Linked DNA regions of Homo sapiens. The protein of the gene in region 2 interacts with the protein of the main gene of each other region in a pairwise test. Each region holds a gene or a part of one and is shown on either strand. Other genes may lie near its edges. The genes, in order: PPP3CB, TBC1D10C, KRTAP13-1 and KLHL12.

What was found.
Region 1: the proteins of TBC1D10C (region 2) and PPP3CB interact in a two-hybrid assay, tested with the Homo sapiens proteins (one study listed by IntAct).
Region 3: the proteins of TBC1D10C (region 2) and KRTAP13-1 interact in a two-hybrid assay, tested with the Homo sapiens proteins (one large-scale study listed by BioGRID).
Region 4: the proteins of TBC1D10C (region 2) and KLHL12 interact in binary tests that used the Homo sapiens proteins (3 or more experiments, as listed by UniProt).

What each region holds. Positions count from the first base shown.
Region 1 is NC_000010.11:73,473,753-73,481,964, forward strand, and holds part of PPP3CB (serine/threonine-protein phosphatase 2B catalytic subunit beta isoform), read right to left. Parts: intron 6,217-8,212; exon of another isoform or gene 6,098-6,216; intron 5,766-6,097; coding exon 5,565-5,765; intron 4,872-5,564; coding exon 4,747-4,871; intron 3,460-4,746; coding exon of another isoform or gene 3,406-3,459; intron 1,279-3,405; coding exon 1,167-1,278; intron 1-1,166. UniProt on the Homo sapiens protein: Calcium-dependent, calmodulin-stimulated protein phosphatase which plays an essential role in the transduction of intracellular Ca(2+)-mediated signals.
Region 2 is NC_000011.10:67,404,765-67,412,983, forward strand, and holds the end of TBC1D10C (carabin), read left to right. Parts: intron 1-320; coding exon 321-420; intron 421-634; coding exon 635-742; intron 743-830; coding exon 831-937; intron 938-1,138; coding exon 1,139-1,253; intron 1,254-1,838; coding exon of another isoform or gene 1,839-1,862; coding exon 1,863-1,928; exon of another isoform or gene 1,929-1,974; intron 1,975-2,062; coding exon 2,063-2,252; intron 2,253-2,784; coding exon of another isoform or gene 2,785-2,985; exon of another isoform or gene 2,986-4,204; intron 4,205-4,214; coding exon 4,215-4,369; intron 4,370-4,642; coding exon 4,643-4,990; 3' UTR 4,991-5,325; downstream 5,326-8,219.
Region 3 is NC_000021.9:30,392,219-30,399,669, forward strand, and holds KRTAP13-1 (keratin-associated protein 13-1), read left to right. Parts: upstream 1-3,812; 5' UTR 3,813-3,868; coding exon 3,869-4,387; 3' UTR 4,388-4,604; downstream 4,605-7,451. UniProt on the Homo sapiens protein: In the hair cortex, hair keratin intermediate filaments are embedded in an interfilamentous matrix, consisting of hair keratin-associated proteins (KRTAP), which are essential for the formation of a rigid and resistant hair shaft through their extensive disulfide bond cross-linking with abundant cysteine residues of hair keratins.
Region 4 is NC_000001.11:202,893,236-202,900,754, reverse strand, and holds part of KLHL12 (kelch-like protein 12), read left to right. Parts: intron 1-3,794; coding exon 3,795-3,901; intron 3,902-5,037; coding exon 5,038-5,233; intron 5,234-6,005; coding exon 6,006-6,164; intron 6,165-6,472; coding exon 6,473-6,571; intron 6,572-7,329; coding exon 7,330-7,516; intron 7,517-7,519. UniProt on the Homo sapiens protein: Substrate-specific adapter of a BCR (BTB-CUL3-RBX1) E3 ubiquitin ligase complex that acts as a negative regulator of Wnt signaling pathway and ER-Golgi transport.

The DNA.
Region 1 (8,212 bases), on a different chromosome or scaffold from region 2:
ATTACCATTGCTATAATAATTTGAGAGAGAAAAGGGATAAACATTGCAGGTTAAGAATTTCACCAACTGTACCTGACTAGTCTTAAAACAATGATATTTAAAAAAACAAAAAAATTTTAAGAAGAATTTCAATCATTAATAGCATGATTGAAATGATCTGCAATGGTAACAGGATAAACAATTTGTTAGGATTCCTCACAGGAATGCCTCAAGATTGAAGGACAAAAATCTCCAATGCAAAATAACATTTTTTTCTTTTGGTTTTTATTTTTTCCTGTTAGAAAAAATATATACATTTTTTTTTCCTGAGACAGAGTTTCGCTCTTGTTGCCCAGGCTGGAGTACAATGGCGCGATCTCGGCTCACTGCAACCTCCGCCTCCCAGGTTCAAGTGATTCTCCTGCCTCAGCCTCCTGAGTACCTGGGATTACAGGCACATGTCACCACGCCTGGCTAATTTTTGTATTTTTAGGAGATGGGGTTTTGCCGTGTTGGCCAGGCTGGTCTTGAACTCCTGACCTCAGGTGATCCACCCGCCTCGGCCTCCCAAAGTGCTGGGATTACAAGCGTGAGCTACCGTGCCTGGCTTAGAAAAATTAATTGTAACATTAAAACTTATATATAAAACTCTAAGTATGTTTGTAAAAGTTAAACATAATAAGAAATTCTGAAATGAAAAAAAATTTTTTTTTTTGAGACAGGGTCTGACTCTATTGCCCAGGCAATTGTCCGTGCAGTGGCATGATCTCAGCTCACTATGACCTCCGATTCCCAGGCTCAAGCGATCCTCCCACCTCAGCCTCCTGAGCAGCTGGGACTACAAGAGTGTGCCGCCACACCCAGCTAATTTTTTTTTTTTGTATTTTTGGTGGAGATGGGGTTTCACCATGTTGGCCAGGCTGGTCTCCAACTCCTGAGCTCAGGCAATCCCCCTGCCTGGGCCTCCCAAAGTGCTGGGATTACAGGCGTGAACCACCATGCCCCACCAAAAACTTCTTAATACCATTAAACACCAGAGAGTGCTCGACAACTTTCCTCAAAGCTTTATGTGTGGACATGAAATCTGTCCTTACATGTTGCACTGTAAAGTCTTCAAAACTCTTACTACCCACTTAAGTCCAAAAGAATACTGAGGAAGTGAAAACATTTCTTCTGGCAGTACTCACATTCCTGCTTAAAGGTAAAATATTCAGTAAGGTGTCTGCATTCATGGTTGCCTCTCAGAAGAAATAATGTGCTTGGGTATAGAATCTTCAGAACCCATAAATATAAGACACACTGCAAAAGAAAATTTTTCTAGTGAATTTATCTTGTACTTTTGTTTAATGAAGCTGCTTGATCTTTGCTCCTTTTCCTCTACTACCCTTACCATCCTCTATTATCTTTCTTTGTCCCTTACTAAAATATAAGCACCACAAAATCACAGATTTTGTCATCTTATTCACTTTTGATTCTCCACTCCCAGAAGAGTACCTAGCAAATAGGAGAAGAGCAATAAATATTTGTTGAATGAATGAGTCAAACAATCTATTTAATTACTTTGGATTTACAGACTGCCCAATATAAAAACAATTAGCACACTGGTCTACAGATGCGTATTAGTAAATAATACTGTCAAAATAACAGCAGCTAACATTTATTAAGTACTTACAATATGTGAAGCACTATATAATTCCCCTAATTTATTCCTCAAACAACACTATGAAGTATGTAATATCATCTTTATTTTACAAATGAGAAACTGAAGCAAAGATCTCAAGTAACTTGTCCAAAACCACAAAACTTCTAAGTGATGGAGATAGGATTCTGATCCTCTGATCTTAAGCATTATGCCATGCTGCCCATGAAGGGAAGGTCCATGTTTTATGTTTGTTTCATTGATTATGAATATTGCCTTACATATGGTAAGTGCTTATTATCTGAACTAATTCAATGCAAATGTAATTTTTCAAATAAAAATATTATTAAACATTATAGCAGATGCTATTCTCTAAATAGATTTAACATAAGAAAGAGACTCACATTTTACTTATTTGCTTAAAAAAGGAAGAAATATTTGATATGGAAATAAGCATGGTTTATATAATCATATGCAAAAAGAAAAAACAAACTTTTTTATTTTTAGAGACAAGGTCTCACTGTCACCCAGGTTGGAGTGCAATGGCACAATTACTGCTCACTGCAGCCTCGACCTTCTGGGCTCAAGAAATCCTCCTACCTCAGTCTCTTGAGCAGCTGGGACTACAGGCACATGCCACCAGGCCCAGCTAAGTTTTTTTTTTTTTTTTTGTGGAGACAGGGTTTCACCATGTTTCCCTGGCTGGTCTCGAACTCCCAGGTTCAAGCAATCTGCCTGACTTGGCCAACCTGTGCTGCGATTACAGGTGTGAGCCACCACACCCAACAAAACTTTATTGTTAATAAATTAAGGTATATCTAAACATGTAACTATTCATATCCTTCATTTTATTCAAAAGGGAAAAAAGTAATAAAATCAGGGAAATAATCTGTTCTCGATGCTTATTTTGATTCTTTGTTATTTTCCTTTTATAACAACAAAATGTATTAAAGGAGTCAGCTACATCCAGGCGCAGTGGCTCACGCCTGTAATCCCAGCACTTCGGGAGGCCGAGGCAGGCAGATCACCTGAGGCCAGGAGTTCGAGATCAGCTTGACCAACATGGCGAAACTCCATCTCTATTAAAAATACAAAAACTAGCCGGGAGTGGTGGTGGGCACCTGTAATCCCAACTACTTGGGAGGCTGAGGCAGGAGAATCTCTTGAACCTGGGAGGCAGAGGTTGCAGTGAGCCGAGATCACGCCACTACACTCCAGCCTGGGCGACAGAGTGAGAGTCCATCTCAATTAAAAAAAAAAAAAAAAAGAGTCAGCTGCAAAACAATCTTACACAAGGACATGCACACCAACTTAGTTACCAAATAAGCTTCATAAAACTGTTTATTTTATTGTTTTGGTCAAATGCCTGAAATTTTTTTGTTAAAATGGGCCATTTTCTGATTTGCCTGAAGCCCTGTGACAATTTGGGAAAAGTTGACGAGGCTAATAATCAACTATCAGCAGGAGGAAGAAGAACTCAAAATAGCAAAATTCCTAAGGGAAGCAGGACAGACAGAGTCTAGAACTTCCTTCCACTCTGAGAATCCTAGCACACCTCAGAAAAAAAGGTATATTGGAAACACTGGAGAAGGAGATATAAACAACAGTAACCAACATAAATTCACCAGGTAAGGTTTCAGTATCTACTAGGGAAGGTGGTTAAAAGCATATGCTGGGAGTCACATTGCCTGGCTATGCTGTTTACTAATAATACCTTGGGCAAGTTACTTAACCTCTCTAAGCCTCAGGTTCCTCATCTATAAAATGAATAAAACAACAGTACTTACCTCATTAATATTATTGTGAGGATTAATCGATATGTCTTCAGTGCCTAGAACATGCTTAGAACATATTAAATGTGCAACACAGGTATCTATTGGTAGAAATTTGACCCCACAATTCTACCTCTAGGAATTTGTCCTACAAAAATAATCAGGCAAGTATGTAAAGATGTATGAATAATATGACTCATTAAAGCATCATTTGTAAAGAAAAAAACTGGGAACATCTTCAGTGTCTAACACAAGGAATTAATTAATTATGGTTTGTTTATTAGATGGAAAACAATGTAGATATTAAAATGATGCTACGAGTTTATATTTACTGACTTGGAAGGATATTTGGTGTAGGCATGTATGAAAAAGCAAGTTACAGACAATATTATAATATGATCCCCTTTTCATTAAAAAAAGAAAAAATGTATATATTGGAAAATACATATTGTTCTACATTTGCTGCATTTTGTTTATATAATTTAAAAAGATGGCAGGGCAATGTGGCTCACATCTGTAATCTCAACACTTTGGGAGTCCAAGGCAGGAGGATCACTTGAGCCCAGGAGTTCAAGACCAGCCTGGGCAACATAGGAAACTCCATTGCTACAAAAAAATTAAAAATTAGTCTAGGCATGGTGGTGTGTACCTGTGGTCCCAGCTATTTGAGAGACTGGGACAGAAGGATCCCTTAAGCTCAAGAGGTCAAGGCTACATTGAGCCATGCTGGTGCCACTGTACTCCAGCATGGGCCACAGAGTAAGACCCTGTCTCAAAAAAAAAGAAAAAGAAAAGAGAAAAAGGAAGAAAAGGAACCATCTACTGTTAAGTGATAATCAAAAGGTCATTTTAATGCCTCAAGTTTTTAAAAACAAATTAATACTTTCCAAATACACAAAGATTCCATAGGATATACTTGAGTCTTAATAGCTACACAAGGAGAAACAGAAGCACTAGGGCTCAAGCAATAAAAAAATCACAATATACTTTATTTAATCAGACAGAATTCAAGTAATCTTTTTTCACATGGTTTAATGCCTTTAGGGGCAAGAGAGATAAATAGCACTAAATTTTTAAGGCCACTAGTTAACAGGGCAATAAAGACCCCTCAGTCAGCTCATAAATTCCACTGGGAAAAAAATGGCAATTATAATTATATAAACAGAGTTATACAAAGAAATTTATTTGAATTGTTTGAAAGACAGAACAGGAATAAATAGTAGCTTTTCATAAAAACTTCAGAATATGCAGAGTTATTAAAAAAACCTAACACAGGTACTTGTGAAAACTAGGATTAAGTGAAAGCATCTGTGTTAACACTTAACAGCAAATCAAATGACAGTTTATGATTATTACCTCTATACTAAAATAACCTCTGTCCACATAATCGCCAAGAAAAAGGTATCGTGTATTAGCAGGTGATCCTCCTACTTCAAAAAGTTTCATCAGATCAAAAAATTGGCCATGGATGTCACCACACACTGAAACAAGAAGATTATTAGATAAGGGAAAAAAATCTCTAAAACAACAAATTTTACTTAAGTTAAAACGTATTTTACATAAGACATAGTACAAATGCTATCAAGAAATGTCTGAGAAGGAAGTAGTCTATGAACAGTCATGATTAGGATGATGTGTAACCAAGTGTTCATGTGCTCAAGATCTAGAAAAAGATGTAACAGAAATAACGAAATTTGTGGTCAGTGACAAACTGAAATCTACATTTATAAAGATCGTCTCTAGGACTCCAAGGATGTGTTTTAAGTTTCAAGATGACAAAATTACAATGGTGGCAGTTAAAATATCCATTCTAACTCAATACTTTCTGTTGCTCTCTAAATGGTCACTTTTGGTATCTGATATGACATCAAGGTATTTGACCCTAACAATTGAAAGCAAAGTAAGTATTGATCAAATTGAAGTATGGTCAACACAATTGATGAAACCTTCACAAAAGCATATTAGACTAACTTCTACACTCAGATTATTTAGAATCATGTCTATTCACTGAAAACAGGCAATCATTTTTAAGTATGGAAAATAATTTGAAATTCAAGATAATGTCCAAGTAATATTGATTTAGCATACAGTATCATTGAAAACAGTAAGTTGTAAATCCAGGCAACTAAATAATGACATAATAAAAATAATACCCAAAACATGAATAAGCTTACCTGTGATTGGAGCTTCTACTTCTATCATGGTTTTCTCTCTCCGAAGGATGGCAGCACCCTCATTGATAATTCTAAGCGCAATTTCTTCATCTACTCGACCTTCTTTCACCAAGTGGTTCTTCAGAACATCAACCCTGGGTATCCCATCCAAATCAAATACTTCTTCAGATGTCAAGCGATGTGTTGGGGGGAAAGGGACAGCTGCAAATGTTTTTAATTAATAAAAGATAAGTCACCAAAAATACATTAACTTAAAAACTAATAATTGGATCTAGATAAGACTAAAAACTGTAAAGCAGGGATTTTTCTTTCTTCTTCATTTATTGGGTAGAAGTGTTTTTCTAAATAGTAAGCAAATTATACCACTTTTAAAGCTATTTATACTAACATGTTCTTTGTTGAGAATTATTAGAGAAATGAGTTGTCTCACAAAATTAAGTTCTTTCAGGATAACCAAAACTTTTTTGTTTAAGCCAAAACATTTTTAGGCAGAACTCTCAAAATATTGTATTATAGTATTAGATATTCTTTACCTTAAATGAAGTACAATAAATATAATTTAATGCTGGGAGTAGTGAAGCATGTCTGTAATCACGACTACTTCGTAGGCTGGGGCAGGAGGATCACTTGAGGCCAGAAATTGGAGACCAGCCTGGGCAACACAGCGAGACACCATCTCAAAAAAAACCCCACAACACTTTAATACCAAATAAGCCTAACTAGAAAGAAAACCCAAATACAAGGTGATTTACCATGTTCCTTTCTAATAAGAACATAAAAACAATGTTTTCTGACCAACTTGACTATACACTTTTAGAGATATAGACCAAACACCAGATGTTTACTTCTGAAATGCAAATTAATTTAGGAGGCTTAAAATAATAAATCATAATTTCAAAATACTGATTTTTCTCCTACCTTACTTAACGTTTCACAAAACACCTTCATTCAAAATCTTTATGCATATATTCGAAACCAGTGCATTCCTTATCATTGAAGTCACTTTCTGAGTCACCTAACACACATTCTGAAAGCAAATCATACTCATTTCCACCTAAACTGTTTGAGATACAGCACTTTTTGCATATGTGTAAAATGTTACCACTGCAAATTTATCCCTGTAATTTTTTTTTTTTTTTTTTTTTTGAGATGGAGTCTTGTTCTGTCGCCCAGGCTGGAATGCAGTGGCGTGAACTCGGCTCACTGCAACCTTCGCCTCCCGGGTTCAAGGGATTCTCCTGCCTCAGCCTCCCGAGTAGCTGGGATTACAGGCATCCGCCATCATGCCCAGCTTATTTTTGTATTTTTAGTAGAGACCGGGTTTCACCATGTTGGCCAGGCTGGTGTCGAACTCCTGACCTCAGGTGATCTGCCCGCCTTGGCTTCCCAAAGTTCTGGGATTACACGCATGAGCCACTGCACCTGGCCTATCCCTACAAATTTAACCAAAAGTTCCCATTTCATCATAGTTAAGTAGTTGGTTTTTTCACTCCGCAGTACATATTTATGATTTCTGTAAGAAATCACCAACTGTACTGTTTTTAAGTGATATTTGTTGAGTGGAATGGAAAACATGAACATCTATTTCAATGGCATCTAAGCACAATTTTGAGGTCATATACCTAGGAAAAATTACTATATAGTAAGTTTTTCTTATTCCTTTTTTACTGAATCCAACAAGTAAATCTTTATGCATTCAAAATCAGCTTGGACTGAAGCAGTTTCAGGCTCTTTACTGAATAGTACTTTGTTTTTCAAAATAAAGAAAGTGAGAGAGAAATGTACATTAGGAGTCTAATAAATATAGACTGAAATGTAAGGCAGCTCCCTCTTTCCAGATTTTTTTTTCTTTTTTTTTTTTTTTTTAGAAAAATAGGCCGGGTGCAGTGACTCACACCTGAAATCCCAGACTTGGGAGGCCAAGGCCAGTGGATCACTTGAAGTCAGGAGTTCAAGACCAGCCTGGCCAACATGGTGAAACCCCATCTCTACTAAAAACACAAAAATTAGCTGGGTGTGGTGGTGCACACCTGTAGTCCCAGCTACTCAAGAGGGTGACGCAGGAGAATCACTTAAACCCGGGGAGGCAGAAGTTGCAGTGAGCCTAGACTACACCACTGCACTCCAGCCTGGTCGACAGTGAGACTCCATCAAATATATATATATATATACATATATATATCTCTGAGCATATAGTATACAGTATTTTCCTGATGCTTTAGGGTCATCATTGTAATGATCAATTATTACAGAGAAGCTTGGAAATGTACAGAACCAACTGCTCCTTTACATTTCAACTTAAAGTAACTAAAAAAAAACAAAAAAAAAAACTAGGTTAGATTCCTATCAATTACCTAAGAAAGAATATAACCACATTCTCATACCAGGAGAAAACATTAAGGAAGAACTCAATCCTTTACAAGTGAGGTAAGAACTAAGGCAGAGAGATGCCAACCATTTCTAAAAGACTGAAATCACTAATCCCTCTTTTTTTTTTTATTTGCTATCTAGTAAAATAAAACTGGACCTTGTTTATTTTCCCTTCACAAGAAACATGTATTACCATTACTTTTTACTCATCTAGAATAAGGCATTAAAGTATATTTTACCCCCAAATATAGCATGTCAAGATTCTAATAAAATAAAAG
Region 2 (8,219 bases):
GGCTTCCAGTCCAGGGCTCTCTCCAGCCAGCTTCCCCTATGAATTGTCTGTGTCCCTGTCCTGGGTGACAGCCAACCAGTCCCTCCCCCAATACACACCCACTCACCCCTTCAGTCTCCTGCTTCTGCCCACGTCGGAGCCACATCCTTTCCTGTCCCCGTGACAAGCATTGGCAGCTCCTGGGTCACAGGTCACCCCACAGGGCTCCCAGAGATCCCTAGGGCCAGGAGCTGGGTTCACCTGGGTAGCCTGGAGGGTGGCAGTGTGGGCCTTGGGTAACAGCTGCCCAGCGTCTGGATACCTGTGCCATGCACCCCCAGGCCGGGCCACCCACCTGCAGACCTCATCCGCCAACGGGAGATGAAGTGGGTGGAGATGACCTCGCACTGGGAGAAAACCATGTCCCGGCGGTACAAGAAGGTGAGGGGGGCAGGGGCCCCACTTGGCTTCCATGGCTCATTCCTCTCTGCCTCAGCCCACATCTTGGCAAAATGTACCCACCCTGTGTCCCAGCACCTCCGGCCTTTGCTCCCTGCCACCCAAAGTGGGCCCCTGCCTGCTGATGAGCTGTGCCTGGGGCCTGCCAGCAGGAGCTATGGAGGCTGCCTAGTGGAGCCCTTGGCCTCACCCACAGGTAAAGATGCAGTGCCGGAAAGGCATCCCGTCTGCCCTGCGCGCCCGATGCTGGCCCCTGTTGTGTGGGGCCCATGTGTGCCAGAAGAACAGCCCTGGCACCTATCAGGTGAGGGAGTGGGCAGGGGCCCCAATTCCCCTACCCAGAGCCCCTCACCACACTGAACCCTCACACCCACCTTCCTGGCTACCCACAGGAGCTGGCAGAGGCCCCTGGAGACCCACAGTGGATGGAGACCATTGGCAGGGACCTGCACCGTCAATTCCCTCTGCACGAGATGTTTGTGTCGCCTCAGGGCCACGGGTACGAGGCCGGTGATGCCCAGGGACCCCCAGCCCCACAAGCCCCAGGTGCTCCAGCCCACTTTCCCTAGCCCAGCTCTACAGTCTTGCATCTCAGGGGACCCAGGAAGGCCCAGGGAGGCTGAGGCCTGGGCAGAGGCCCCCAGAGGGTGGAGAAGGGGGTGCCTGCAGGACTGGCCCCTTATGGGGTCTTCCGGCACAGGCAGCAGGGGCTCCTGCAGGTGCTCAAGGCCTACACCCTGTATCGACCGGAGCAGGGCTACTGCCAGGCCCAGGGGCCCGTGGCTGCTGTGCTGCTCATGCACCTGCCCCCAGAGGTGAGTGACCTTGACCCTGCTCTGGGAACCCTAGTGACCTAGGCCCAGGGAACCCCATCCCCAGGAACTGTGGCCTCAGAAACCTGCAATCCTTGATTCCTGGACCCTGTCCTAGTGACCCAGGTCCTCATGACTGCCAGCCTCAGTGACCTTCAAGCCTAATGACCTTGACTCCAGGAACCTGGGACCCTTGACCCCAGCCTTGACCCCAGTCATCTAGGAATCTGGATGTTATCACCTTGACCCCACGACTCCTGATTCTGAACTTGGGGACTGCGACCCCAACCCCAAAGACCCAGAAACCCAGGACTTGAACTTTGGGACACTCCCAACCCTTGGCCAGTGAACCCCAACCCTGTGACCTTCAAATCTAACACCATGAGCCCTGTGATTTCCAACACCCTAAACCCCTCAGCAGACCCTGTCTTGGGCAGAGGAGGGGGCTTTTGGGAAGGGCTTCCAGGAACTGCGCAGGTTAGGAGTGGCCCTGAGTGCAGGCCCCTGTGGTGCCCAGGCCCTCCCCTTCACTCCTTTCCCCTGTCCTGCCTTCTCCTCCACGGTCCCTTCCTTGGTGAGCACTTACAGGCCTGTGCCCTGCCCCTTCCCCAGGAGGCCTTCTGGTGCCTGGTGCAGATCTGTGAGGTCTACCTCCCTGGGTACTACGGGCCCCACATGGTGAGAGGCTGACATGGGGGCTGGAGGAAGGAGGGGCAGGGGCCCGGTGAGTGGGTGGGGGTCTGGGGACTGAGGGAGGTTGAGCCTGGGCTCTGGGGGTGGCGGTGCTGGCCTGCTGATGGACGTGGCCACAGGAGGCTGTGCGGCTGGACGCCGAGGTGTTCATGGCCCTGCTGCGGCGGCTGCTTCCGCACGTGCACAAGCACCTGCAGCAGGTGGGCGTCGGACCCCTGCTGTACCTGCCCGAGTGGTTCCTGTGCCTCTTCGCCCGCTCCCTGCCCTTCCCCACAGTGCTGCGTGTCTGGGATGCCTTCCTCAGTGAGGGTGAGTGGGGCAGCCAGTGGCTGGGGCAGGAGCCTTGGGGTGTGGGTGGGGAGGTAGCTCACCAGCTCCAGGGTTCCCTTTTTGAGCCTCAAATCACAGGACTGGGTGTGCCGAAGGTGATGGCCTGGTGCCTGGCGCTACATCACCCATCACCCATCACCCAGGCACCGCCTGGTGCAGAGCTGGGCCAGGGAGGCTTCCAGAGGAGGCAGATGGGGCAGGAGCAGGGTGATCACAGCACATGGAGGCCTGAGCTTCTCAGGGACAGTAGGAGGCGTTCCTCCCCAGAGCCCGCAGGCACCTGCTGGGTGCTCACTGGCTCCAGACGTGGATCTGCAGCTGGGAATCAAGTGATCGAGACCTTCAATTCTGGCGGGGGTGGGGATGGGTGGCGACAGTAACCAAATTCACAAGATATTTATAGATTGTCAGAAGTGTCATGAAGAAAATAAAACAAGGGATGTGACAGGGAGTGTCAGGGGAGTGCAGGGGCGATGGCTGCATTTAAGCTCCTTCTGGCTGCTCTGTGCAGGAGGAGGACTCACAGGGGTGGCTGTGGAGGCCTGGGGCCAGAGAGGCCACTGTCCCCAGGGGCCAGGCTACAGTCTACGAAGCAGGGAGGGCTTGGAGCCATGAAGCCAGAGAGGTGGAGGCTGGGGGCCAGGCCAAGAACAGGAGGGGAGTCGGAGCAGAGCCAAGCTGGACTCCCTGTGTCTTTGGGACTCTGCCTTGATACTGCCATCGGTAACCCACCTGCATTCTGTTCTATATGTGAGGTCTGGAGGTTGCACCTTAAAACGTGGTAGAAATCAGTCAGCATATGCATACTGTGCATACTGAATGCCTGTCGTGTGCTCAGCCGGCTTCCTGCCCTCCGCACAGCGGAGGACCACTGGCTGACTTAGAGTTCTGGCCACAGGTGTCCAAGTCGCTATCCATGCGGTCACCTTCCAACCAGCCTTAGACCTCGAGAGCAGGGCTGGGCAGAGCTGGGCAGGGCCTGACCTGCCCACCTGGGGGCAAACACTACACAGGCTCCCTTTATCAGAAGGACGATAGTATGAATAGTGATTGTTCCTACCATCATCACTCAACCTCGCTGGTCCCCTGGTGGCTCTTCTCAGATCAGAGGCTGCCAGGAAGGAATTTTGAGGCTCCAGGACTAGCCCAAACTCACACTGTGGGGAGTGTGCACTGAGTGCTATGCTCCTGGCTTAGGGAAGAGCAGTTCTGCCTAGGATCTTTCTAGAATCAGAGGGTCACAGATCCAAGTTGGAAAGGCCCTTAAAGGGCTCCACCTGACCTTTCATCATGGAGATGAGCAAGCTGAGGCCCAGGGAGGGCTTGGTGTGAAGGCATCAGTAGCCCTGGGCTCCTGGCAGGAAGCTGGTGGCTTGGAGGGGACTGGAGCCTTGGGGTGTGGACAGGGAGCTAGCTCACCAGCTCCAGGGTTCCCTTTTGGAGCCTCGAGTCATGGGACCAGGTGTGCTGAAGGTGATGGCCCTGTGCCTGGTGGCACATCACCTGTCACCCGGATGCTGCCTGGGGTAGGAGCTGGGTGATCATAGCACATGGAGGCCTGACTGGCTCAGGGAGGGTAGGAGGTGCTCCTCCCCGGAGCCCACAGGCACCTGCTGGGTGCTTGCTGGCTCCAGATATGGATGGCATCTGAGCATCAAGTGATCAAGACCTTCATTTTGGCGGGGGTGGGGATGGGAGGCGACAGTAACCAAATTCACAAGATAGTAACTCTTCCCCAAAGCATCTGTGGCTCTTGAGGCTAACTTGGCCAGTACAGCGGCCTGTGTTACCCGAAATGCAACTCCACCCTCTGTCATTGTTCCTGAACCGGGGAGGGCAGAGCTGCAGGAGAGTGGGAGGCATATGGCTGAGGGCAGGTTTGGGTGCAGAACTGTGGAGGGGCAGGGCCGGCCTCCCAGTGAATAAGCCCCCGGCCTGCAGGTGCCAGAGTACTGTTCCGTGTGGGGCTGACACTGGTGCGCCTGGCGCTGGGCACTGCAGAGCAGCGAGGGGCCTGCCCTGGCCTCCTGGAGACACTGGGAGCCCTTCGAGCCATCCCCCCCGCGCAGCTGCAGGAGGAGGCCTTCATGTCACAGGTGGGTACCCCCACCTCTCCTTGGACTTGCCCAGCCCCTGCTGCACGGGGGAAACTGAGTCCCAGAGCAGGAAGCCAAAGCGAGAATGGGGACTTAGTTCCTGTCCCCTGAGCTTCAGAGAACACAAAAACCTGAGGCCTCCAGTGGCTTTCTGTGGCTCCCCAGTGAGGCTGTCAGCCCCTCAGTCCTCAGCCACTTCCTGGGCTGGGGACCTCACAGTTTCCTGTTCCTGCCTTGAGGCCGGGCAAACGCAGCACCAACTGCTCCCCACAGGTGCACAGCGTGGTGCTGTCAGAGCGGGACCTGCAGCGGGAGATCAAGGCCCAGCTGGCCCAGCTGCCCGATTCCGCGCCGGGACCCCCGCCCCGGCCACAGGTCCGCCTCGCCGGGGCCCAAGCCATCTTTGAGGCCCAGCAGCTGGCAGGAGTGCGACGAGGCGCCAAGCCTGAGGTGCCTCGGATTGTGGTGCAGCCCCCGGAGGAGCCCAGACCACCGCGGCGGAAACCCCAGACCCGCGGCAAGACTTTCCATGGGCTCCTGACTCGGGCCCGGGGCCCCCCCATCGAGGGGCCCCCCAGGCCCCAACGAGGCTCCACCTCCTTCCTGGACACCCGCTTCTGAGAGGACCATGGACTTAGTGTCCCCCAGTCTCAATTGCCTGATGGCTGATGCCGGCCCGGCAAATAGGCACCGCACTTTACTCTTGGGACTCGGGGACTTGGCTTCCTTCCTGGCAAGGACCAGGCAGTGGGGAAGGAGGAGGTCCTCCGTGGTACATACTGGGTCAGGCACTAGCATGGAGGAGGGTCACAGAGTGGGGCACGTGAGGACCCATGGAACCGTCCTGGTGCCCAGGCCCTCACAAGTACCAAAGCCAGCACCAAAGGAGTCAGGGAAGGGGTTGGCTGAGTCAAGGGACCCCAGAGGGCACCAGGAATAAAATCTTCTTGAACAGATGCCTTGGATGGCGCTGGATCAAATGCCCTCCTCCCAACCCCAGACAGGCAGCCCCTTCCCCTCCTCCCTCATCTGCCCTTCCCAGCCCCGCCCTCTCCTGGTCCTGCCCTGGGGACACACCGAGGCTGCCCACTGGCCGCTGGGGAAGGTGTTTACAGTAATAAGAGCCAATTGAAAGTTGCCCTGCCCAGCCTCTGGGGACAGGAGTGGCTTTTGCACCTGCAGGAGGAGGGCGCCCCAGTGGATGGCGAGTCCAGGGGCTCTACCCCCTCTTCTGCCCTCCTTCCCCTCCCTCCAGGGTGGTTCAGTACTCGCTGGGATGGGGGACTCTAACCCAAGTCCTCCCCGCACCCATGGTTCTAGTCACATCTGTCAAAGGGATCCAGGCAAGAACAAAGGCCTAGTGTGCCTCGGACAAAGGAGAAAGGTCCCGCCAGCCCTCACCCCTCCCTGGGCCCTGCGTCTGCCCCCTCGGGACCGCCACCATGGAAACCCCCTCCCACACTCACTAATAGCCCCCGTGGGTGCCCAGGACCTGAGCCATCGCCAGGGCAACAGGGCTGGTTCCGACACAGGCGTGTGTCCCGCAGTGTCCATTCCCAAGTGCCCTCCCTTCGATGGGGAACACGGCAGGACTCCATATGGATGGGAGGCATCTGCAGGCCCAGGCTCCAGGGGTGGCCATTGGGTGGGGTGTCAGTGGAGTCACCTGTCAGACTCTGGGTTTGGAATGTTCTTGCGACAGGGCCACAGGCTGCGTCTATGTGGCAAGTGCCAGGTCCTGGGTCCTGGGCAGACTTGTCCTACTCCCAAGGAGCCTAACCCCTGGAAGAGGGAATCATGGCGGCCCAGACCCTTCCTTATCTGTCGTTTCTCCGGGGGAAACTGAGGCTCAGGAGGAGCAGGAACTTGCAGAAAGCCTTACTATCTATCCATAGCAGACCCAAGGTTTAGCCCTGCCCCAACCACTGGCAGCTCCCCCCTGGGCAGCCCCCTGGGAGTGCTTTCTCCTGCTCCTTCCCCGCTCTACCCCCAATCCTGCACCAGCCCCTCAGTGTGTGAATGAGGCAATAGCCAGACTCCCGTGATTTAGAGCGCGCTCCAGAGCCTCCTCTGCCCACTCCTCCTTACCCCGCTGGGGTGCCTGCAACTTAATAATAGCCTCCTTACCTGTAGTTTACAAAACCCTTTCCCAGACCCCCCGCCCCTAGGCCCTCTCTCTGCAGGTGGCCCCTGATATCCCTGTTAGAGACACAGGCTTAGTGAGGACAAGGACCTCACCCAGGCCCACAGTGAAAGGCAGAGCCGGCTGGAATGCAGAGGCAAGGCTCTGTGCTGTGTAGACTATGCCTTATCCTTAGACGAGGAGTGTCTTGGTGGAATCTCAGGCACTGTAGCGGGCAGGGTGGCCGGGGTCAGGGGGCACTTGTCCCTGAAATCCACTTGGGAGCTCCCCGCCCTCCACAGTTCAGCTCTTTGCCTGGGAGAATAGAGGAGCAAGGTGCAGCAGCCTCAGCCCTGGGCCGAGGGTCTGTCATGAGCCTGCGGGGGCGCGGTGGCAGTGGCTCACCCTGGACACAGACCCTAGGAGCCGGTGGTCTCCAGCAGCGTCCCTCCAGCTGGGGCTCAGTCATTGCCTTTCCTACTCAGGAGACTGTTTTCTGGGCAGCTCTTCTGTAGGTTTCCTTATCAGTCACCTGCATGGGAGCCCTAACTCACAGGCTGGACAGAAGAGGCCCAGTGCCCTCCGGGTGTGAACCCTCGCACACATGCGTTCTCACAGGCTCTCCTCCGCAGGGCTGCACCGGCCCCCACAGCACCTTTTTGCCAGCTAGGGAAAGACGTCTCTCCTCCAGGCAACATGCAGCCTCACCAGAGTGCACGGTGTAGCAGAGTGGGGTGTGATCTCTCTCCCAGGTGCCTTTGTGCAGTGAGCAACCTACACAAACATGCTCAGTGAACCTAGAAAGTCCCTACAGATCTGCCTGGAAGGGGGCTCAGAGAAGGGAAGTGATGCATCTGAGAGGACTCAGTGTGTGGGGACTGAAGCTGGGAGGGCCCCTGGGATGTCTGTCAGCCTGCCTCAGAGTGGACACGAGTGGGGGCATGCAAAGGAGTGGAGCAGGACAAATGGGTGCCTGCCATGGATCGGCGGGGAGGACCCACGGTCTCCATCTTGCCCTGCCACCCACTTGAGGTTCCCTGAATTCCCACACTGTTCCAGGCTCCCAGAGGGGTCAGACTTGGACTCACCTGCATGGGAAAGGCCCTTTCTTCTCCTCTGAGCCTCAGTATTCTCCTGCGGATAATGGGATTATAATAGCCCCCACCCCAGCCTCAAGAGGGCTCTACCAGCTCATGATGATGATGATGATGACTGTTCAGTCCAGCGGGACAGCAGCCAAAGCACTGCCTCTCCTCACCCCACCCCTACCTAGCCTCAGGTGATGTCCAGGCTTTCCTGGCAGGGGCAGAGCAGAACCACCCGCCCACCTGCCTGCCCCAAGTCCCAGGATCCTGAGCTTGGGCTGCAGCTGCCCAACTCTGATTTTCCTCCCTGTATCCACAAGGCAAAAGCCAGAGCAGCCAGGGACCAGACAGGGTGGCCTAGGAGAGGGCACAGCCGCAGCACTCTGTGCATGCATGCACGCATTCTGGCAGAAGATCCCGGCTCTGCCTCTCACCAGCTGTGTGACCTTGGGCAAGTCACACGACCTCTCTCAGTCTCATAATTGCTCCCTTGCATGTGAAGTGTTAAGCCTGGGCTGAGTGTGCACTGTATCCCCATTTGAAGATGAGAAAACTGAGTCCCCAGGGCTGCAGAGCTTGTTAAATGTTAAATGTCAAAGCTCATGCTCTTTGGATCACGCCCAGGCCCCACAGTGGGACCCCA
Region 3 (7,451 bases), on a different chromosome or scaffold from region 2:
TAATTTAAGGGAGTAACTTCCAAAAATGGTGGTACATGAGAACCACGAATGAGGCAGCCTTAGGAGGAATTTAATCATCTGTTTTTTTATTTAAGTAATTAATTATTTTTTGGTTTATTTGTATGTCCTAAAATGACCCATTGTTCATTCTGTTGCATATTCAGAAGTTAGACAACACTGATTTAAGCATTTGCCCAGCATATAAAAACCAACTCAAATTCTGCTGGCTTATAAAGTATTTGAAGTCAGAGGAGATCATTTCAAGCCACTACATGATGTAGGCAGCTCATAAATATAAGTGAGGTGGTTCAGTGGATTTGTGATTTGTTTGATGATTGATGCTTCATATTCTAATCCATCATCACAGACATGATGTATTTTCTTATTAAACATGAAAGAATATTTGTCAAGTGCACGAGAATATAGTTTTCAGAAATTTTCTTGAAACCCAAAGCTTCTTAATTCATCTCACATTCTCTCACTTATGATAGAGACATTAACCAACACAACAAAATAATAGTGCAGGCTTGATGCGTAGTCACAACTGAAATTTGGCTGTAGAGCTGGGAGACAAGAGGGGTGGTTAGAGTTGTGGGGATGATAAGAAGCATGTCCCACATCCGTGGAGCAACTCTTCTTCAGTTCCAGCCAACTGTGAGTGAGAAAACCCAGGATCACCAGACTTTCAGAATTTTTAAAAAAGAAATCACAAATCCAAATTTTTGTGAATTTTTGATTGTTGAATATTAGCAACTAATTTATAGTTGAATAAAATGCCCGGGGGGGCCTGCACTTGTGAGATGAATGAACCTATGTGGGCTGGATTTGACAGAGGACCTGTGAGTTTATGGTCTATTATTTCAACTGGTACCATTCACCAGCCCATTAGTGCAGGGAAGGCAGGATATGCATGGGGAGGAGAAGGGCACTATTGCAAAGCGGGGAGGGAAGTCATAAGGGTAAGCCCTGATAAACACATTTGCTGACTTTGTTAATTTGATTATTTCCAGTTAACAAAAAGTTACCCTTAGTTGTGATAGGATGGTTATCTTCAAAAAGTTCCTTGGAAAATGAGGATTTGAGAAAGAAATGGTCTTCACAGCATCTTGTGGGCTAGGACTTTTCTCGCAGCTGCCAAGAGCCTATAGACAGAAATTTAGATATTTAGAAGATCACAAGATAAAGTTGTTAAAAGTAGCTGTTTGATGTGGAGGAAGCTTCTTTGTCATTTTTTTTTTTTTACTTATGCAAGTTTTATCTAGTGAGTTCTAAAGAAAATTCCAATTAAACATACATTTACATTAAGAAAAAGTTGATACTTTCAGTATCTGTTGTATAATTACCTTTTTATTAAATAGATTTGCAATTCCATGACATTAGCCATGGCTTTATACTTCTTGAGCCCCTGACATCACATATTTGGACTTTGGCATATATTCTGTCAGGGAATTTGTCTTGAATTTTTAGAAAACATATATCCAAAGAACATAATAAAGCTATCAGACATTTTCTTATTTTGTTTTCTGTTTTGATTTGGGATTAAACAGCAGCAAAGACAAGAAAAACACCAACAACACATACAGCAAAGTAATTACTAAAAGTGAGGCTGGAGCTCCAGAGAGACACATTGTCCTGACAGGTGTCCGAGGGAGACCTGGTGTTCCATGTAAGTCCCTGATGTCTTAGAGAGACTGTCATGAGCACATGCTCAGACATCTTGGGCAGGGCATGTTAGGCAGAGGCAGAGACAGATGTAACCTAATGAAGGGTAAGCTTGAGGGTACTTCTCTTGCCTGACATTTTCCAAAGCTCTGTTATCACTCCTGGGGAGACTGGGAGGAACCCGCTGCTCCAGCTATGCTGCTGTGGCCTAGGAGTCCCTCGTGGCATCCTCAGGCTGTGGGTGTATCCGGAGAGCTGCCTGCACTACTTCTAATATATCTAGTCCCCAGGGTCAACCTTATAAACCTTAGAAAGTTTTCCTTTTTTTTTTTTTTTTTTTTTTTTGAAACAGAGTCTCACTCTGTCGCCCAGGCTGGAGTGCAGTGGCGCCATCTCGGCTCACTGCAAGCTCTGTCTCCGGGGTTCACGCCATTCTCCAGCCTCAGCCTCCCGAGTAGCTGGGACTACAGGCGCCCGCCACCACATCCAGCTAATTTTTTGTATTTTTAGTAAAGACAGGGTTTCACCGTGTTAGCCAGGATGGTCTCTATCTCCTGACATTGTGATCCGCCCGCCTCGGCCTCCCAAAGTGTTGGGATTACAGGCGTGAGCCACAGCCCCCGGCCCATAGTTTTCCTTTTAAGAAGAAGGATTGGAACGAGGATACTGCTCTGCCACAAACTAGAAGACCCCTACAACCCTGGATCCACAGCTGTTTGCAGCCGATCCTCATGCAAATTGCCAACAGATACAGGTGGGAGGTGAACCAGGGACATCTGGACAAGAGGCGCACAATCTCAGGCTTGAAGCACTGCTGAAATGAAATGACAGAGGGTGTTACAGCTGTGGCGTTGCTCACAACAAATGGCAATGTTAAAAAAAAAAAACTTTTCTGTGTCATAAAAAATAATTCAAGTATTTTTGATGTACTATTTCTAAAAGAAACACCAAGTTTTACTTCCATTTGTTCTACAGAAAATCATGTGGACAAAACCATTGTCATGTGTAGAGATGATCAAAGACCGACTATGCAACCAAAAAATGTAGAAAAAGATTATAGATGAGGATGATGATAAAGGTATATTATTGTCTTGATTTTGTGACATCTTGGGTTTTGTTAACTATGGAAGTTTTTATTCTAAGTTAATATCCATGTTTATATCTATTATTATATTCCTAATATTGTGTTTTTAATGAGGATCTCCAAATTATACTTTTCAACACCACAAAACCTAAATCCACCTCTTTAAAGAGGGCTGGGACAGAGTCACGAAAAACATAGAAGCTGGTGTTACCCCGCAAATGCTCAGAAGGCAGTCAACATTTTGAGGTGGGGGTTTAGAGGTGTTGTAGACAGGTAGGCTCCAGAACACTTACAAATATGAATGCATCATACAAAAGTCATCAAATAAGTTTATTTGAAAGCATTTTGATTTGCTTTTAGGATGGAGTCCTGAGCATCCTTCTGCTATTGTGACTACTCTGACTTGTTTCCTACCTCATCTCAGCAGTGTCTTCTACTTTCCTTTTTTTCACATGGGTCCTTATTGTTGTATTTGTATTTATTTATTTTTTGCTTTTGTTTTGATTTCTTTTTTCTAAATACTAATTTTTTAAAAAAATTTGTTCAAGATGATATCTATGTCTAGTTATCTCTCAATTCCTTTGGCTTACTTTTATATAGGCCCTCGAGACTGGACTTACAAGCACTGATTATAGTAAATAACAGATGGCAAACTATTTTGGAGAGTGTGAACAATAAGATTTCTGCCTCTAGGCCACTGACAAAAAAAGATGAATACATTGCTATCCCCACCCAAGACAGAAAGAATTTCCCAGCCAAAACAGGAGCAGATGTATAAATCATGGGCAGAGAAAATAAGAGGGGTTTTCCTGGACATAATGGAGTAGGGACTAATCACATACTGTCATAGCATTTGTAACATAAATGCATTTCATTGACGCAGAGCTGTAAAAACAAAAGGAGTTCTTCCATAAATATAAGATGAAGGGTGTTAGTTAACTGCAATGACAAAGAAGATTACTAAGTTGCTTATATGAAATGTGGGAGCTTAAATGTGTGAAGGATGACCCTGTAAGGTGCCACACCCACGGCTGAACGTATATAAATGGTCCTGTCCAGATGTGGCATGCAAACTCAGAATCTTCTCAGTGTAACTCAGCTGAACTCACATCTCCCATCAACATGTCCTACAACTGCTGCTCTGGAAACTTCTCCTCCCGCTCCTGTGGTGGCTACCTGCACTACCCAGCCTCCTCCTGTGGCTTTTCCTACCCCAGCAACCAGGTCTACAGCACTGACCTCTGCTCTCCCAGCACGTGCCAGCTGGGTTCCTCTCTCTATAGGGGCTGTCAGCAGACCTGCTGGGAGCCCACCAGCTGCCAGACATCCTATGTGGAGTCCAGCCCCTGCCAGACCTCCTGCTACCGTCCCAGAACCTCCTTGCTCTGCAGTCCCTGCCAGACAACTTACTCTGGGTCTCTAGGCTTTGGATCCAGCAGCTGCCGCTCCCTGGGCTATGGATCGAGGAGCTGCTACTCAGTGGGCTGTGGGTCCAGTGGCTTCAGATCCCTGGGTTATGGAGGCTGTGGCTTCCCTTCCCTGGGCTATGGCGTTGGATTCTGCCGCCCAACCTACTTGGCTTCTAGGAGCTGCCAGTCTTCTTGCTACAGACCAACTTGTGGATCAGGCTTCTACTATTGATCATCTTGTTAAATTGCTGATTTTGTTGGCTAATGCCTTCAATGCCTCTACTCATAACCTTTATTGTCTTCATCATGTACAGAAAGAATTAGCCTCTTATTCTATAATTATCAAGTTCTCAGTTTGTCTTTGTCCCCAAATACTGGCTGGCAGGCTTCATCTGAAAAACTGTAATTGGAGAACTAGCTCAAAATAAATCTTGAAATACACATTAAAAGTAGAATTTATATTATTCGATTTTCTTCCACAATTGTATAAAAAGTCAAATCATTTTAATCCAATAAATCCATTGGTCTCATATTCAGCTATGTTTGTGGTGGTTTTATATTGCTAGGGTTTTGGTTGTGATGTATTAGGCAATTATTATGAAACAATTGGTGTATATATATAGGAATAGGTTTCAAAATCATATGAAGTTTGCGATTCAGACAAACTTTTGGGGGCCTCAGAGATTTTTGTTATTCAAACTACAGGTAGTGGAAGTCTACTAAATTTACAGACTTTTATTCATTAAAATATCAGAATCAGGAATTAGCTTGATCCCCTTATAAAATGTGGATTCTTGTGTCTATGCCAACAAGCATAAGGTAGCAAACTAGTTGATAGTTATATCAGGAATCTGCAGAGAAAAAAATACTATTTAGAACAATATGGTTATAGATATACATAAAAGAAAAATGGAATTGAAGAGAAACAAAAGTGATTTGAAGTAACTTTTGAAGTCACCCAATATTTGTTGGTAATCATGATCAAATGCCTGCATCTCATTGATGAGAATTCAATATGATTCAGTTATCTACATATGTGTAATAAGGGATACCATGAAACTTGAATGGAGGATTGATATTCCACCTTGGTTTGTATTCATGTTTCACACTAAGTAAAGCTGAAGATAATAACCTTTTGATATCATCAGAAGTGATAATTTAATTCACATCTGAGCATAAAATTAGGGAAATGTTATTTCTCTTTTTTGTGGTAGCATTCTTTGTTTTCTCAGGCAAAGCAGTTCCAGAAACAGGTGTGAAGATAAATAGATTTCAATAAGGAACCTAAAGTTGAGAAGAAAAAAAGAGCTCAAACAACGTTCAATAACTATTCCCATGCATTATTCCTTTAGACAACAGCTGTTAGAGAAAGAGATCCATTATACATGTAAATGATGTTAAATGTAAAAATATGGAGACACAAAGATGATAAGGAATGTACAGGGAAACTTATTGTACGATATCTTGAAGGAGCTGCAAATTTTTGACTTGCAAAGACAGAAATATCGGAGGGGAGAAGTCTGGGAAGATTACACGCAATAAGCAAAGCAGAAGGGGCTGAAAGTCTTTGTGTATTCAAGGAATTATTGGAAATTTAGCTCAGTTACAATGCAAAGTGATTTAATATGGTGTGGTAATGACAAACATGTTCATTCAAACTACTAACACAGTCTTGAGATAGGGCACTTTTTTTTTTTTTTTTTTTTTTTTTTTTTGGGACAGAGTCTTGCTCTGTCACCCAGGCTGGAGTGCAGTGGCGCAATCTCTGCTCACTGCAACCTCTGCCTCCTGGGTTCAAGCGAGTTTCATGCTTCAGTCTCCCTAGTAGCCGGGATTACAGGTGCCCACCACCACGCCTGGCTAATTTTTTTGTACTTTTAGTAGAGACGGGGTTTTGCCATGTTGGCCAGAGTGGTCTCCAACTCCTGACCTCAGGTGATCCGCTCGCCTCGGCCTCCCAAAGTGCTGAGATTACAGGCATGAGCCCCACACCCGGCCGAGATTGGGCACTTTTATTCCATTTTCTCTTCTATTCTAATCACTTATGTACTTTTAAAAAGAAATCTTTTATCCAATGATTAGGTATAAATTATTAGGTTCATACCTAAGGTTAAATAAGTTAAAATCAAATGCTTACAAATGAAAAAACAATTTATAATTAATGTCTTTTGTTTAGAAAATCTAGACAAGGAAAATACATGTGAAAATATTCAGAAATTATGAGTGTCAACATCTAAGAAAGGTCTTGATATATAAACATACATGTGAAAATATTTAGAAATTACCAGGGCCAAAATCTAAGAAAGGTGTTGATAAATAAACAAGCAGAAAGCCATGGAATTCATGACTACTTTTAGAATAGGAATGTTGTCAAATCCAAAAGAGAGGCTGAAGTTCAGCTCCAAATCATTTCAGTGCTTAAGTTAAGAGGATATAGGAATACCAGGGTTCTTGTTCTATCCTTCCAAAATCAAATTTAAATTCTTCCAGGAGGAGGATAACATCACAGTGAGCTCTAAATTATTTCTTTATATAGATAAATTTAGATACAAATGTAAATATAGATACCTATTTATATATAGATATAGATACCATTGCAGATATAGTTATATCTAGATACACATGAAGACGCAGATATAGTCTAGTACCCAACAAAAATTTACCAGGCTTCAGAAGTTAAGAAATTATTAAATCCAAAATATAGATATATGTAGCAGAATTAGGCTTACAAGAGCTTCAGTAAATGAAAATATTAGACATAAATGTTAAATAACTACACTTGACATGCTTAGGGAATAAAAAGATAGATGAAAAATTTTGGCAGAGTACTGAAGTATATTAAAAGAACCAAAAACAGATTTTAAAATTAAAAAATGTGATAAATTAAAATATTGAATTGGTGAACGGATTAAAACAAAATTAAACATGGCTAAAGAGATAATTAGTTATTGTTCACTAGAATATATACAAACAAAAAAAATAAAGAAAAATTATTAAAATATTTAAAGGAGTTTCAGAGACTATGGAACATGTGAAACAGTCTAACATAGTTGCTGCTAGAGTCCTAAAACAAAATTATGTGTCTCTCTGTGTGTGTGTGTGTGTGTACATATGGCTAGAAATAAGTCCACATATCACTAAATCTAAGAGAAGTCATATGTAATAAAAACAGATTCACAGGGGATCCAAAGATAATTTTTGAATAGAGGAAATATCAAATCCATATATTCAAGAACTACTAAAAATCCCATGCATGATAAATATGAAGACAAGCCCATAACTAGGCATATTGGAAT
Region 4 (7,519 bases), on a different chromosome or scaffold from region 2:
GTAGCTGGGACTACAGGTGTGTACCACCACACCTGGCTAATTTTTGTATTATTAGTAGAGATGGGGTTTCACCATGTTGGCCAGGCTGGCCTTGAACTCCTGACCTCAAGTGATCCACCCGCCTCGGCCTCCCAAAGTGCTGTGATTACAGGCGTGAGCCACCACGCCCAGCCTTCTTTATTTTATGTTACTTTATTTTATTTTTTGAGACAAGTTCTCACTCTGTTCCCCAGGCTGGAGTGCAGGAACACGACCTTGTTCACTGCAGCCTTAACCTCCTGGACTTAAGTGATCCTCCCATGTCAGCCTCAGGAGTAGCTGGGACTACAGGCATTTGCCATCACACCTGGCTATTTTTTTTTATTATTTTTTTCTAGATATGGGAGTCTCACCATGTTACCCAAAGTGGCCTCGAACCCCTGGGCGCAAGGAATCTGCCCACTTTGGCCTCCCAAAGTGCTAGGATTATAGTCATGAGCCACTGTGCCTGACTTCTTTAGATATATATATTTATTTTTGGGGGGTTGGGGGGTGGGGCAGGGAGTTATATAAAGCAACAGAAATAAGAGCTGAAAAATCAATAGAAAACTTTAAAATTTGCATAGCACAGGAAGTACCTCTTGGTTGGTGTGGGAATTTTTATTCATACATACATCATCTGCTGGCATATTCATCTACATGGGAAATGTGTTTGGATAGAAGGATCACACTTACCTTGTCTATTCAAGTCAGGAAGAAAAGAGGTGGAGTAAGAAAAAGGAATAGGTAGGGAAATAGTGTTCCCAAAGAAGAAACAAATAACTTGTGGTCCTAGCTTCTCCCAACTTGAAGTAATTTTAGGCAGACATAAAATTACTTCAATCACTAAAGAACCCTTCATTCTTATGCTTTGATTTTTTTATTTATTATTATTATTTTTTTTTTTTTTTTTTGAGATGGAGTCTTACTCTGTTGCCTAGTCTGGAGTGCAGTGGTGCAATCTCGGCTCACTGCAACCTCTTCCTCAGTTCAAGTGATTCTCCCGCCTCAGCCTCCCAAGTAGCTGAGACTACAGGTGCGCATCACTGCACCCGGCTAATTTTTGTATTTTTAGTAGAGACGGGGTTTTGCCATGTTAGACAGGCTGGTCTTGAATTCCTGACCTCAGACAATTTACCTGCTTTGGCCTCCCAAAGTGCTAGGATTACAGGCATGAGCCACACCTGGCCATGCTTTGATTTTCGAAGGAGCTGACTCCTGAGACCTACTTGCTGGCTCACTTTGGAGAGGGTCCACTTTATTTGGCAAGTACATAAGACAAGTGCCCTCTTAGAAAAACTCCGTGGTTTATGTGTGAGTGTATATGTTTTATTAAGAAAAATCTCAAACATAAAAATAGTAATATAATGATCCCCCATACCCATCACTCAATTTTAACAATTATCAACACATAGCTTTTTCTTTGAGATGGAGTTTTGCCTTATTGCCCAGGCTGGAGTGTAGTGGCGCTATCTCAGCTCACTACAACCTCCACTTCCTGGGTTTAAGCATTCTCATGCCTGAGCCACCCGAGTAGTTGGGATTTCAGGTGTGCGCCACCACACTCAGCTAATTTTTGTATTTTTAGTAGAGACGGGGTTTTGCCTTGTTGGCTAGGCTGGTCTCAAACTCCTTACCTCAAGTGATCTGCCAGCCTTGGCCTCCCAAAGTGTTGGGATTACAGGCATGAGCCACTGCACCCAGGCTATTTTGAAGCAAATTCCAGACTGGATATTATTCCATGCCTATGTGTCATACTTCCACGTGTGTCTCTAAAAGATAAGGAAAAAAAATTCTGCCACATCTAGAATGCCATTATCACTGTTTAAAATCACACAATTCCTTATTCTCACGTGTTTGTGTAATTTTTTTTCCATAATTTTTTGTTGTTTGTTTTTGAGTACTTATGTTGTTCAAATCAGAATCCAGACAAAGTCCACACGTTGCTCGTGATTTCATGTCTCTTTTCAGTCTCGTTTTAATCCAAAAGTTTCCATCCTGTTTTGGTTTTTCCCAGCCAGTTTATTTCTTGAAGAAGCCAAGCTGTTCGACCTGTAGAATTTCCCACATTCTAGACTCTGCTGTTGCATCTTTGTAGTGTCATTTAACATGTTCTTCTCCCATGTATTGCCTGTAAACTAGTGGTTGGATTAGAGGCTTGTTAAGAGTCAGGCTCAGTTTTTTGGAAAAAAGACGAGGTGGTAGTGTGGTCCTTCCTATTCATCACCATTAGGAAGCACTCAATGTCTCATAGTAATATATTGGCTTTTGAAATAATGATTCTAGCCCAGCAATTGATGATAATTGTCAAATCCATTACTTCATTAGGGGTTTATCTGTGTTTCCTGTCAGCTTCAAGGTACTACATTTGCTCTTTCAAGTCCAGGTTACTCATAAGATCACTTTGGTCTCCTAGATGCTTCCTAGTGATTGAATTTTCCAAAGCTCCAGCTAACTATTCTCTCCATGAGTTCTAATGGAGCACATGCACAGGGGATTTTCTCAAAGAGACTTTGCTCTTTGAAAAAAGCCAAGGCAGGTGCTGTGGCTCATTCCTGTAATCCCAGCTACTTGGGAGGCTAAGGCAGGAGTATCGCTTGAGGCCGGGAGTTTGAGACCAGCCTGGGCAATATAGCAAGACCCTGTCTCCAAAAGCCAAGGTAGGAAATATTTTATCAGAGTAAGGCGTTAGGGGAAGGGGAAGATATAAAGGCTGTCAGAATAGCTTCTTTGGGAAAATAGAGAAAAAGACTTTTCCTTTAAAACTCTAGTCTTTTGTTGCCTGGTGGTTTTGATGAATTGGCAGGGAATGTGATCATATAGTTGACTAAATTGGAGAAGGAAGTGTTCATGGAAAAGAGATTTTAGGCCAGGCACAGTGACTCATTCCTGTAATCCCAGCACTTTGGGAGGCTGAGGCAGGAGAATCACTTTAGGCTAGGAGTTTGAGATCAGCCTGGGCAATATAGCGAGACCCTTTCTCAATTCAGAAAAAGAAAAAGAGATTTTAAATCCATCACTTGGATCCTAAGTTTCAACATGTAGCTTTTTTTGTGACAAGGTTAGGAGAGTTCTTTCCCCATTACAACAAAAAACCTCCCAATTTGAGTTTTTCAGGCTAAGTGCAGAGAGTGCCTTTAGGCTCTCACCTGCACTTAAGACCTCAAGGATTATGTCAGCCAGTCATCTCAATAGGTTGAAATGGTGCAGTGTTGCCGGGCACAGTGACTCACACCTGTAATCCCAGCACTTTGGGAGGTCGAGGCTGGCGGATCACTTGAGGTTGGGAGTTCGGGACCAGCCTGACCAACCCCATCTCTACTAAAAATACAAAATTAGCTGGGCGTGGTGGCACAGCCTGTAATCCCAGCTACTCGGGAGGCTGAGGCAGGAGAATCACTTGAGCCCAGGAGGCAGAGGTTGTGGTGAGCCGAGATCATGGAATTGCATTCTAGCCTGGTCAACAAGAGCGAAACTCTGTCTCCAAAAAAAAAAAAAAAAAAAAAAAGAAAAAGAAATGGTGCAGTGTCATGTTGAAGTTTGCTTTCTAGAGTTTTAATGTCCAGAAATTTAAGTTTCAGAGACTCGAGAGCTACAGCCTCAAGGAAAAATAACTCCCCATTCGACAGCCTTATGATTATCTCCCATTTCGGATTGCATCCCTCAGCCACATAAAACAAGACATCCTAGAACTGTTTCTGTTGACACTTCCCTGTGACTAGTTACCCATCCAGGGATGCTGAACTAACCCATCTTTTTTCTGCCTTTGTCTTCAGGAGCCAATGAAGTGCTTTTGGTGGTTGGGGGCTTTGGAAGCCAGCAGTCTCCCATTGATGTGGTAGAGAAATATGACCCCAAGACTCAGGAGTGGAGCTTTTTGCCAGTAAATAATGGTGAAACCATTCGTTGGGAGGGATGTTAAATGTCCTCAGTCTCTGCCTCCAGATCATAGCTAATCCAGCCTTAAGAGTAGAAAAGCCTAATAACAGGATGTTTCTTACAACAGTCTTGTGCATATAGTAGGTACTTACTTAACAGTTTTTGACTGTTTAGATTAGAAGATTATGCCTTAGAAATGTCAGTGGCCCTGTGTCAAGGTAAACTCAGATGGCCACCACTAGTTAGGTGCCTTTCTAAGCTGTCTGTATAATTCCTAGCACATTTCATTGGTCGTGCTGTGTTAAACTGAACTGAATGTTAAATTGTGTTGAATTGAACCCAGTGTTCAGTTGAGCTCAGAAGTTTGGGCTGGGCGTGGTAGCTCACACCTATAATCCCAGCCCTTTGGGAGGCTGAGATGGGAGGATCTCTTGAGGCCAGGAGTTCAAGACCAGCCTGGGCAATATGGTGAGACTCTGTCTCTACAAAAAAGTAAACAAAAAAATTAGCCAGGCATGGTGGTGCATGCCTGTAGTCCTAGCTACTTGGGAGGCTGTGGCAGAAGATTGCTTGAGCCCAGGAGTTCGAGGTTGCAGTGAACTGTGATTGTGCCACTGCACTCCAGCCTGGGTGATAGTGAGATCCCAACTCAGAAAAAAAAAGTTTGTATCTGTCTCCCTCAGCATGTCTCTCAGTGCTGAATGAACAATAGTAATTTCTGAGAAAACATGGAAATCCAACCCTCCTACCTTTTAAGGTTCTTATAATAAATCCTCATCCTTTGATTAGCAATGTGGGAATACTTTTCTACTTTATGGAAGGATATCAGTCTCTTAGCCCAGTGCCTTATGGAAGAGAAAGGAGTCAGATATTGGATAACAGAAAGCTGTTAAATCTTTTGGAAGCCTTGGAAAGAGGCAGAGATGCAGAAAGCTTGTATCTTTAAGAGCACCACAACAGGCATTTCGTTCAGTAGGTAGCTATTTGGGAGCCACTTGAGGATGAACCACTTAAGGAGGGTTCATGATGACAGGTGAAGAAGCAGAGAGGTGTGCAGATACAACAGGGAAGATAGCAAAAGGTAAGGCCCAAAACTTGCCTAACTGAAATGCTCTGTACCTCTTCTCTCCAAATCCATAGAGCATCACTCGTAAGAGACGTTATGTGGCCTCAGTGTCCCTTCATGACCGGATCTACGTCATTGGTGGCTATGATGGCCGTTCCCGCCTTAGTTCAGTGGAATGTCTAGACTACACAGCAGATGAGGATGGGGTCTGGTATTCTGTGGCCCCTATGAATGTCCGACGAGGTCTTGCTGGAGCCACCACCCTGGGAGGTAGGCTGGATGTGCAGGGCAATTATTTCCATCTTACTGTGGCTGGACCAGGGTTTTTAACCTCTCCTGTTGTCTGGCAGGAGCATGAAATACGGAGAAAAAATTAAGGTCAAATGTTATTATTATTTGAGACAGGGTCTCTCTCTGTTGCCCAGGCTGGAGTGCAGTGGTGTGATCACGGCTCACTGCAGCCTCAACCTCCCCAAGCTCAAGCGATCCTCCCACCTCAGCTTCCTGAGTAGCTGGGACTACAGGCATGCACCACCATGCCCAGCTATATTTTTGTATTTTTAGTAGAGATGGGGTTTCGCCATGTTGCCCAGGCTGATCTCTAACTCCTGAGCTCAAGTGATTGACCCACCTCGGCCTCCCAAGGTGCTGGGATTACAGGTGTGAGCCACTGTGCCCAGCCGACAAATACTCCTTTTTGCTTTCAGAAATATCAGTGTAATAGAAGCTGTTCAATATTCATGGATGTTTCATTATTGACTACAAAGTTGGCAAATCAAGTTCCAATGTGCTGGGTGGGGAACTGGCACTAGTTGTGTTTTTGCAAACTCCTAGGTGGTCTTTGAATGCTTTTAAGGATTTTGTTTTACCCCATTCTTTTTAGATGTCTTCCTTGTCTATAAAACTTAATTGACTTATCTCATTTAAAAATACTTTGTTTTTGCTCTCAGACTTTTAAAGGACCCTTGGAAAATTTGTAGAGGAAAGAGTTCTTAGAAATCTCTCATTCTCTAATAGTCTGTAATTTGTTTATTCTGAGCAGATATGATCTATGTCTCTGGAGGCTTTGATGGAAGCAGGCGTCACACCAGTATGGAGCGCTATGATCCAAACATTGACCAGTGGAGCATGCTGGGAGATATGCAGACAGCCCGGGAAGGTGCCGGACTCGTAGTGGCCAGTGGAGTGATCTACTGTCTAGGTATTGAGTCTGGGATGCAGGAATGGGAGGGAACTCAATGGGTAATGGGCTGTGGGTAAGGATTCCTTTTTACCAAAATGACGTTCATAGACTTCCCTTCAACTAAAACCCTGGTGTGTCTTAATATATTTTCCATTAATTGGGATTATCTTTTTCTTATAAGCATAATGTCAGATTTCTCTTAGAGTTATTGGAACTCTTGTGGGAAAATTGAAACTAAAATAATTAGTTGAAGCACTCAGAAAAAAACCGACCAGGAATGGGCATGAGGATTTACCACTCTTTCTGGAATGGTCTCTGTCTTCCAGGAGGATATGACGGCTTGAATATCTTAAATTCAGTTGAGAAATACGACCCTCATACAGGACATTGGACTAATGTTACACCAATGGCCACCAAGCGTTCTGGTAAGACCAGATCTGAGGGAGGGGACAATAGGCGATGCTGTCAGACCTTTACATATATAATGGTGGTGCATGGGACAAACCGTAGATTAATGTAAAAATGAGATTCTGCTCTCCTCCTTGTCTCTGTTTTCTCTAAATACTAGGATAAAGACAGTTGATACTTACAACTAGATTATAAATTTGAAAGCAAAAGCCTTCATGTCTTTGTTCTCTCCCTACGTTTTAGAATATCTAGTACAATTTTGCCTGTGTAGTACATGCTTAATAAATATCTGTTAAATAAAGTCTCTAATGCATAAGGACAAAAGAGTAGCTACTTACCTTCACCAAGAGCTTTTTGAAGTGGAGCAGGCTGGGATATAGAAAAGGAGAGAGCACTGTGCTGTTCTAGTTTACTTACTCTGGGTAAAAATTGCTTCAGAACCATAATCACAACTCCTTTCCCTCCATCTACCTTTATTGCCACCTTTTTTTCACTTCCTCCCTTTCTCCTAATTAGAAGGGTTGGGCTCTGAGTTAATGAAAGTAAAGAAGAGAACCATTTTTATTATTTATCTTTTATCATTTCAAGTCCAAGCCAAAGGGTTTATAGATGGAATAACTTGTGCTGGACTAGATTATTCTAGGCCCGTGTGGGCCCATTCCATATCCCTCATCTACTGTAGAACTCAGCTAGTCATTAGTGACCGTAGTTTATTTCTATAATTCAGATTCTAGGCTTAGTACCATACATTTGCTAATGCATTCATTTTCCCCAGGTGCAGGAGTAGCCCTGCTGAATGACCATATTTATGTGGTGGGGGGATTTGATGGTACAGCCCACCTTTCTTCCGTTGAAGCATACAACATTCGCACTGATTCCTGGACAACTGTCACCAGTATGACCACTCCACGATGCTATGTAGGGGCCACAGTGCTTCGGGGGAGACTCTATGCAATTGCAGGGTG